2 separate regions of the Homo sapiens genome follow, and region 1 is linked to region 2. The links come from fine-mapping of genetic effects on gene expression. A gene starts in region 2. The other region holds a variant in brackets. All regions are shown on one strand. Distances are from middle to middle. Region 1 overlaps XPNPEP1 (X-prolyl aminopeptidase 1). Region 2 holds the start of XPNPEP1 (X-prolyl aminopeptidase 1).

Evidence for each region. PIP is the estimated chance that this variant, and not a neighbour inherited with it, causes the effect. A credible set is the group of variants that fine-mapping cannot tell apart.
Region 1: its variant is the best candidate, but not a certain one, in a credible set for the expression of XPNPEP1 in whole blood (INTERVAL, PIP 0.59).

The regions. Positions count from the first base shown.
Region 1 is chr10:109,867,448-109,871,831 of GRCh38, reverse strand. XPNPEP1 (X-prolyl aminopeptidase 1) reads left to right here. Exons shown (of 21, transcript NM_020383.4): 17 at 1-40; 18 at 928-1,101; 19 at 1,803-1,879; 20 at 3,120-3,218. It also overlaps the pseudogene RNU4-5P. Among named protein-coding and RNA genes, the nearest start is that of XPNPEP1, 54 kb to the left of the region's middle. The variant A/T (reference allele first, on the strand shown) is at 2,560.
Region 2 is chr10:109,921,639-109,926,022 of GRCh38, reverse strand. XPNPEP1 (X-prolyl aminopeptidase 1) reads left to right here and starts at 2,512. Exons shown (of 21, transcript NM_020383.4): 1 at 2,512-2,621. The coding sequence starts at 2,590. RefSeq lists a silencer at 2,297-2,836.

The DNA of each region.
Region 1 (4,384 bases), 54 kb after region 2:
ATAGCTGTGAGTGCAGCCGTTTTCCCGACTGGAACCAAAGGTAGGTGGTGCATTCTGTCACATGGCAGGCTCTTTTTCTTGTTTGAGAATCAAATATGTCTATGTTTGAGTGAAAGAACATGTCGTTCCTTCACTGTGAGGTCCCCATCCCACTTCAGGCCCAGCCAGGTGCTCATGGGGTGAGTCTCCATAACCCACTGACTGAGCCCAGAGGCCTCAGGGAGCCGGGTTAGGATTGGGCCCAGTACCCCCTGTGCACCATTCTCCTGACCACTTATGGTATTGGATGACACATGTGGATGGCTCCCAGGAGAGGACAAACCAGATATGAAGGTCACAGGGCCTGAGTGGAAGTTGGTGCAGCCTCCTGTCTGCCCTTTAGTACTGGGCCAGTGCTTCCTTTCGGGATTCTTAGGATTTATTTTACTGGGACCCTGACTTCAGCTATGTACTACTTTGCTTGAGGCCTGGTGGGTGGAGCATTGGACTGGGCATTGACAAGACCTGGGCTGCCTTGCTTTTGGGTAGATTAGACATGTACTCATCTCCCTAGGCCTCAGTTTCCTCATCTGTCATGCCTGCCTGTCTGCTTGCAGTCTGGTTAGAGTCTCATCTTTGTAATTCTGAAACCTTAGGGTCGCAGAGCTGGCAAGGGAACGTCCATGTCTGATACGGCCTCTGTGTGCTGTAGGTGTCTATCCCCGCTCACCAGCATCCTGAATGGATGATCGCCTAGCTTCAGACTGAGCTCTGATGGTTTCTCAGGAGCTCTGATTGTTAGAAAGTTCTTCCTTGTGCTGTGCTGAAATCTGAACCCTCCAGTAACTTACCTATTGGTTTCTGTTTCACGTTCTGGAGCCACACATAATAAATTTAATCTCTAAAGCGCTGTACAAATACAATTAAGTGGCTCTTTATGTCTTTCAGGTCACCTTCTTGACTCCTTTGCCCGTTCAGCTTTATGGGATTCAGGCCTAGATTACTTGCACGGGACTGGACATGGTGTTGGGTCTTTTTTGAATGTCCATGAGGGTCCTTGCGGCATCAGTTACAAAACATTCTCTGATGAGCCCTTGGAGGCAGGCATGATTGTCACTGATGGTAAGTGTCCCTCACATAGAGGGCATGCGTGGATCCTTGAGCCTTTTTGAAAGCTATTCGTTGTTTTGTATTTTTTAATTAGTTTAAAGTAAATTGGCAATACTTTTCCCTTCCAACAAACTTTTCTGATTATAGAACTGATACATGTTCATTTTAGAAAAAATGAGATGGGAACTGTGTAAAAAGAAAATGAAAATCATTTGCAATCTAACCACTCAGGGGAAACATGACTTAGTGTTTTACTGTATTAGCTTTTGGTCTTTCAGGTATGTAGATAGCATTTTTTTTTTAAATCATTGAGATCTTACTGGGCATCTTGTCTTATGTTCTGCTTTCTTACTTGATACATTGCCTTTTCTCAGGTCATTGCCAAGTCTTTGTAAATATATTTTAATGCCTTCATTATTGTGTCTTACGGATGTGAACCATGATTTATTTAGTGGATCCACTGTTACTTTACTCCTTACCCTGTAGCCAGTGTGCAGGGACTTCAGAGTCTAGCTTTCTGCACCTCAAGTGCCTATAAAAAAGTGGCCATATGAGAGAAGGTGGCATCTCTAGGCTCTTACACCAGATAGAGTGGGCTCTTCACCCGTTTCTTCTCCTTTGGAGTAGGGCAGTCATCCAAGGAGTGAAAGTTTCTCTCTGTAGACATCTTCATCGTGGGCTGCTTCTCATTTTTGGGATTTGGTTTGTTTTAGAGCCCGGGTACTATGAAGATGGGGCTTTTGGAATTCGCATTGAGAATGTTGTCCTTGTGGTTCCTGTGAAGACCAAGGTGAGGATTTATTAAAAAAATTTTCCTGTTTCTATTAGCAATAATCACGCCTCGGATAGACCTCATTGGCTACAATACTGCCACTGCGCAAAGCTTAAAAATTTTCCTGTTTCTTAGTGTGGGAAGATGAAGACTTAATGTCTTTGGAGCCAAGAGTATGCCATTCTGGGGCCAACATGGAGCCTTCTTCTCCAGATATCAGGGACTTTCCTGGAAACCACACTCCTTCCCTGCAAAGCCAGAAAGAAAATCCTTAATGAACTGGGATCTAGAACTGGGATTCACAGACCCTCAGGCTGATGCTTGCTTCACATGATTTGGGGCTCTGAGTTTACTATAGGCGGCCTGTTGTCTCTTCTGCTAGGGGTGCCTATTCAAGGCGCTAATTTCCAGGGCCCCTCCCAGACCCTAGAATTTCCAGGGTGGGGGGCCTGGAAGCTGTAATTTTGTCACACTCCCCAGGTGACTTTTATTAGGTAAAGTTGAGGAACCCTGAGTTATCCATGGGTCAGCCTCAAAGGCAATACAAGACAGGTGTTTCACCCTCTTCCCCCATCAGTGTTACCAAGGTTGCAGGGTTTTAGGCTCTAGGCTTTACCTAAAAGACCTGTTTGTGCCTCCTCCATTGGTGGAATTGAACAATTGGAGGGAAGTAGCTTCCTGTGTCTACAAGGAGGTTA[A/T]CTGCGGGGATCTGCTCTCTGCTTTGGCATGGAAGTCACTATTCTTGGAAGTGACCTCCCATCTTATTCCCAAAAGCTGCCATGAACAGAAACCCGACATGTTCTTGTGTGCTCCAGTGGATAGATGTGTTGTCGCCTGATGGGCCTGGCTGGGTCAAGGCAGACCACACAGTTGACTGTTATAAAAATGATTTTGAGGACTTACACCCCTGCATCCTGGAGAACCAAAACCAGAGATGCCCCTAAGCCCAGATACCCCCATATCCTGCCCCTGTTTCCTATCACAGTAGACATTAGCCTTGGGACCTGTTGCTGGGAGCCCCTCAGCACCCTTTGTTTGGCCTTTCCTGATGGCACAGGCCATTGTTTGCCCAGTGGAGGAGCTCTTGGAAAATGGCATCAGGTTCCTTGTGTGTCTGTGAAAAGTGGTGACCAGCTCACCACTTCTTGGCTCCCAGTTACCCCTGGCTCTGAGGGATGGCATGCTGGTGGAATGACCTCATGGTGCTTCAGCATAGTAAAGAGGAGTAAAAGCATCTGTTTTCTTCTTTCTCCCGCAGTATAATTTTAATAACCGGGGAAGCCTGACCTTTGAACCTCTAACATTGGTTCCAATTCAGACCAAAATGATAGATGTGGATTCTCTTACAGACAAAGAGGTAATGGGGAAGTCTTGGTGGGCAGGCATGTTACTAGGGGAGGTGGAGACTACCTTAAATAGTTCTAATCCATCCTCTAAATCCTAAATTCTCTAATCCAGTCTCACTTTGTAATTTTTAAATTTAGAGGTCTAGGCCAGTTGAGTCTGAAAGCCCTAGGTTTTCTGAGGACTCCTGAGCTTTTCCTGTATTTGTTGGGCCTCCAGGTGGAGATAGTCCTGTTTCCCGCAGCCATTCTGGGGCTGTAGGGTTTGTGGGTGGAACTCGTATGCCATTGTTTGGCTGTACTATTCCTCCATAGCTGCAGTGAGGCGTGTTTAGCAAATATGAGCCTATGTGTGTCCCTACAAAAAGCCAGATGGATGGTGGGGCCTCTTGGCCACTGTACATACCAGATTGTTTTCTTGTGTTACATGAAACATTAAGGAAATGGAAAGCAAAATCTATTATCGTATGTCCTGTTTTCACACAGACAAGGAGAAAGATAGTACCAGCCCTTCTCGGTTACTACTGTGGTCACTCTGGGGCAGTGAAACCCTTCACAAAGCCTGGGGCACAACAGTGCTTACTTGCCCAGCTCAGAGGGTTATGGGTCTTAACTCCTTCAGACCCTGGACTGGTAAGGCCAGGTCAGATGGCAGTCCTGGGGACATGAGAAAGGCCTGAAGAATCACACAGATGTTCAAGGTCAGAGCAGAAACAAGGGTCAGAAATGGGGTAGGAACTGTTAGCACTAGACAGACAAAACAGTTCCCAAACCAGGAAGCTGGAAGCCAGGAGGACACAAATTCCAGAGCAAGGCAGGGGTCAGAAGTTCCAATGAAAAGCAAATGACTGGTGGGAGCCGAAGGCAGGGTAAGCACGGTGGGTTACTCTCGGAATAAGAATATTTTGTTATCTGAGGCAGCCAATGGCCTTTGAGTGCCTCTCAAGGCAGGAACATTTCCTCACTGGCGCCCACTTGGGCCTCGTTCTTGACACTGTAAAGGAAAGGGTCTTTGGGGGTTAAGGACCTTCCCTTCCACAGGAGCTGTGGAATGGGATTCTCCCAGCTAGAAGCCTCTTCTGCCTGTTCCAGTTCACAGGTGGGTGATGAGAAAGTCCATCCACTTCCTGCTTAGCTTTCCTCTGTGCTTGAGCGCCTCTGCTTAACCATCCGTGCCCTT
Region 2 (4,384 bases):
GTCTCCTCAACCAGTAAAATGAGGATAAGAGTCCTTCACCCATTGGTTTGTTGTGGGTTAGACACATAGCCTTCAATGAATGTCAGGCAGTGTGACTGTTCCACTTCTTTGAGGATGCAAGGACTGTAGAGCCAGGAGAAGAACCTATATAACTCCTGGTGTTCTCATTCTCTCATGGTAATTCAGTGCTATAACTTCTCCAGAGGTTCTCTTGTTAGAACTTCAAGAGCGAGGCCGGGCACAGTGGGTCATGCCTGTAATCCCAGCACTTTGGAAGGTCGAGGCCAAGGAGTTCAAGACCAGCCTGACCAACATGGTGAAACTCCGTCTCTACTAAATACAAAAAATTAGCCGGGTGTGGTGGCGCATGCCTGTAATCCCACCTACTTAGGAGGCTGAGGCAGGAGAATTGCTTGAAGCCGGGAGGCAGAGGTTGCAGTGAGCTGAGATTGTGCCATTGTACTCCAGCCTGGGCAAAAAGAGCAAAACTCCATCTCAAAAAACAAACAAACAAAAAAACTTCAAGAGGGGAAAGGGTTCCTTTTTTTATCTTGCAAACAGGAACTCAAATCCAGCTCAGGGAATGCAAGGTATTTCTCTCTCTCCCCTGAAGCTGGATGCCGTAAATTCTGAGCCAACTCCTTTTCTTTTAGGCAATGTGATTATTAAATACCTGTCCCCCTTAAGTTTCACTTATCTCTCTCTCTCTTATCTCGTTTTCTCTTATAACTTGATTTTTCCCACCAGCTTTCAGATGTGGGCTGGAACCAGTATTTTATTTACAATCTCTCTGTTTTTGGCTTCATAAATTTGGGGAAATGCAACAGATGTGTGCTGCTTTCCCAGGAAGCACATCTTTAGTTTTTTCATGCTTTAACTACACAGTCTAATTCGGCTTGCCTAAATGCTTATTCAATAACGACTTTGAGTTCTTGCAGGTAGCAGAACCTAGCTGATACAGGTATATTAGGCCTTACACCAAGGTCAAAGCAGGAGGAGGTGCCATTCACCTTTAAAAAAATGTGGTCACTTTCATTTAGTGCCAGGTGTTGTTCTAAGCACCAGGGAAATAACAATGAACAAGAGAGCCACCATCCCTGCTTTTGAGGAGTGCACATTCTGAAACATTCATTTCTGCAGAAAATATATAATGAGAACTTATGACATGTTAGATATTGTTCATCATTAAACAAAACAGAAACAATCTGCACTGATGGTTTTGTTGTGTGCGTGGGTGGTGGCAGGAGAGGGGGAAGAATACAGTACACATAAGTACATTAAAAGAATCCTGTTAAAAGGTGGTAAGTGCTATGGAAAAAATGAAGTAGGGTAAGGCGGATTAGGAATATTGGAATGATTTACAAATTTAAATAGGATGGTCAGGGTAGGTGATACTTGAACGAAGACTTGAAGGAAAATGAGGAAGGGAGCCTCAATATTTGGGGGATGAGCAAGTCCAAAAGCCCTGGGACATGAGTGTACCCTGCTTTTTCAAGGAGAGCCAGGAGGCCATTTCAGCTGAAGAAGAGTGAGGAAGGTGAGAACAGGAGGAAATGTGGCTGGGGGTAGATCAAATGGAGCTTTTATGCTGCGTGAAACGAGAAATTAATGGAAAGTGCTGAGCAAAGAAGTGACCTGGTGTCACGCTTCAAAGGACTGGTCTGGCGGCTTTGTTCAGGCTGGACTGTGCAGGTGCGGGATGGTGAGGGGATATTTGGGGGGCTGCTGTAACCACACGGGTGGGGTGGTACAACCCTCTGATGCACATCAGAGGGTAGGAGGTGGAGGTGGTGTGACACGGCCAGATTAGGGGTCTATTTTGGAGGCAGGGCCAACAAGATTTTGCTGGCAGATTAGATGTGGGGTGTGAAAGAGAAGAGGCAGGGAGGATTCCTAAATTTTGCCTCTTAAGAATAGAGTAGCCATTGATTGAGATGGCAAAGAAGACTGGTGGAGAACGTTTTTGCTTTGCTTCGGTGCATTGGGAGTTCCAGGAGTTCCGTTTGGACGTTAAGTTTGAAGGGGCTATTTACTATCCAAGCGGAGCGGAGAGCTGGATTTTGAAGCTCTCTGGGAACATACTTTTGGGGACATTTCTAAAGCTTGAGACCCTGTTCCAAAGCCTCGAAGACCCTGTCGAGGTTCTTCCGGAGCCGGCCACGTCCCTCTCTTCTCAGCCCTCCTAAATTAAGCCGGAAAATCCCTGGGACAGTAGCCCCTTTATTCGGCAAAGCCCTTTTTCCTCTTTGAGGAATGACGACAAAAACGAACAAAAATGAAGACACTCAGCAGCACTGCGTCCTTTCCCCGCTCGCTGCAGGGAGAGGCAATGCGGACTGGTGTGGAAGGGCAGGCCCCGCTCTGGGCCGCAGGCGCTGCGGCCGCGAACCCCAGGTCCGGGAGTGTGGGCGGGGCCTGCGTGTGGGCGGGGCCGCGGCGCCAGCGCCCGCCACGGGCGAGGGCGTGGCCGACCCGGCGCTAGCCCGCCCGCCCGCCCGCCGGCTCTCGCGCCTCCTTCGCGCCGGCCCTTCCGCGGGTGATCAGCTGGTCTGCGCTCCCCTGACGTGGGCTGGGGCACGTCACCGCCGAATGGCAGCCTCCAGAAAGCCACCGCGAGTAAGGTGAGGGCACTCCGCCGGCAGCCGGCGTCCGGGCAGCGTGCAGCCCTCGCTGCGCGGCCGCGCGTGTTGCACCTCGGCGGGCAGGGACGCGCGGGTGAGGAGCCCGGCCCGCCGCAGTCTGGCGAGGGCCGCGCTCGCCGGAGCCCCGGAACAGGAGCCGGGGGAAGGGGTCCATGAGGCCGGGCGAGATCCGGTTCGTTTCCGGAGGGTCGGTGGGCACGGGGCGGCCCGAGTCTGGTTCCTGGACGCGTATGCCCGCGGAACTGCTGCACTCGGCCTGAGGGGGCGGCGGCCGTCACAGTTCCTGGCCCGCGGGAAGGCCCCGTTCTTGGAGGAAGTTGGCCCCTCTTCGTGTCCGGGGAGGTGGGCGAGCCTTTGCCCTCGCTTCTGTTACCCAGGAATCTAAACCTCAAGTTACAATCTCGACAATACTGACTCCTGCAATTCACTCTACTGATCTGTCACCGCCACAAGGATAGACGGTCGCGGGCCCCTCCCTACCCAAATGGTTTCAGAGGCTGTGTAAGGGAATATTTTGGTATAATCTCCAGGAAAATCCCCCCAGTAGCCTGCCCTGGGCTCTCCTTGGGCATAGGAGGGTGAGACAGATAATTTCCCGGCCTCAAGTTAAACATGTTTTAGTTTATTCCCCTGCCATAACCAGGATGTACTTATCAGAGCCTCTGACAAAGTGGGAGACGGAGAGAGGTGTTCAGAGTTCATGGAGGCCACAGGCCAGACTCCCTGGCCATCCCCAAGGGGTCACCCACCTGCTAACCACTTGAGACATGAATGCACTCACTTTGCAGCATGGCCAGGCTTTCTTGCTGAACACAGACCATGGCTCCTGCTTGTGTTTGTGAGTAGGGGGGTCCCAAACCTACCTTGACCTGGATTTGCCGTTGCCACAGCTTGTTAAGGGTGAGCAGAAAACCAGACCCACCCTGTGGAAGTATGTGGGAGGGGTGGAGAACTTCCATCTGGAAGGAGCTTCCTGTAAGTGAAGTGCTGGAAATGGAGTCAGGCAAGTGGATAATGATGAGTTAGGCTGTAGGCCTCAGGTGGTCTTTAGGGGGCCAAGGTGATCTGTGCTAGATTTATAGACTCACAGCCTTTTAGGAGCAGAAGAGTCTTTTCTACACCAGCTGGTAGAGTCTTTTTTACCTCAAAGGAAAGTCCAGTGAAAGGCTGAGAGAGGGGAAGCCATTTTCCACAGGCGCCTCCCCTACTGGTAGAATTTGAGTGCCATTCCTTGTAAAAGTGAGCACTTCTTTCAGTTTCGGTAATGGAAACTGAACTCAAATTGATTTACCTAAAATGGGGTTGAGCTGGCTTCTAGTGTGGCTGAATCCGGGAGCACCACCAACATTGGCTTCAGACTTCTCTTTATCATCTCTTGGCTCTGATTTATTCAGTATCCGCTTCATTCTCAGGGAGACTTTCTCCTTATGGCAGGTTATGACAGTTCTAGGCTGACAGCCCCAGCAGAGAAGTTGAGCCCTCCTTCCTAATGGAGCAGAAGTCCCTGATCTGATGCTCACTGGGCTGCCTTAATTCTCATGTTCATCTGTGAACCAATCATTATGGCCAGAGGGAGGGATTGACCTGCTTTGGGTCCCAGAGCCTGTTAGGTGTTTGGATAAGACTGCTTTGAACCCCTTGGGCTGAAATGGAGAGGGTACATTCTCAAAAGGAAAACCAAGGTTCCCATCAAAAGGAGGGATGGATTCTGGGTAGACAAAGACAACATTGCTTACTTCCCA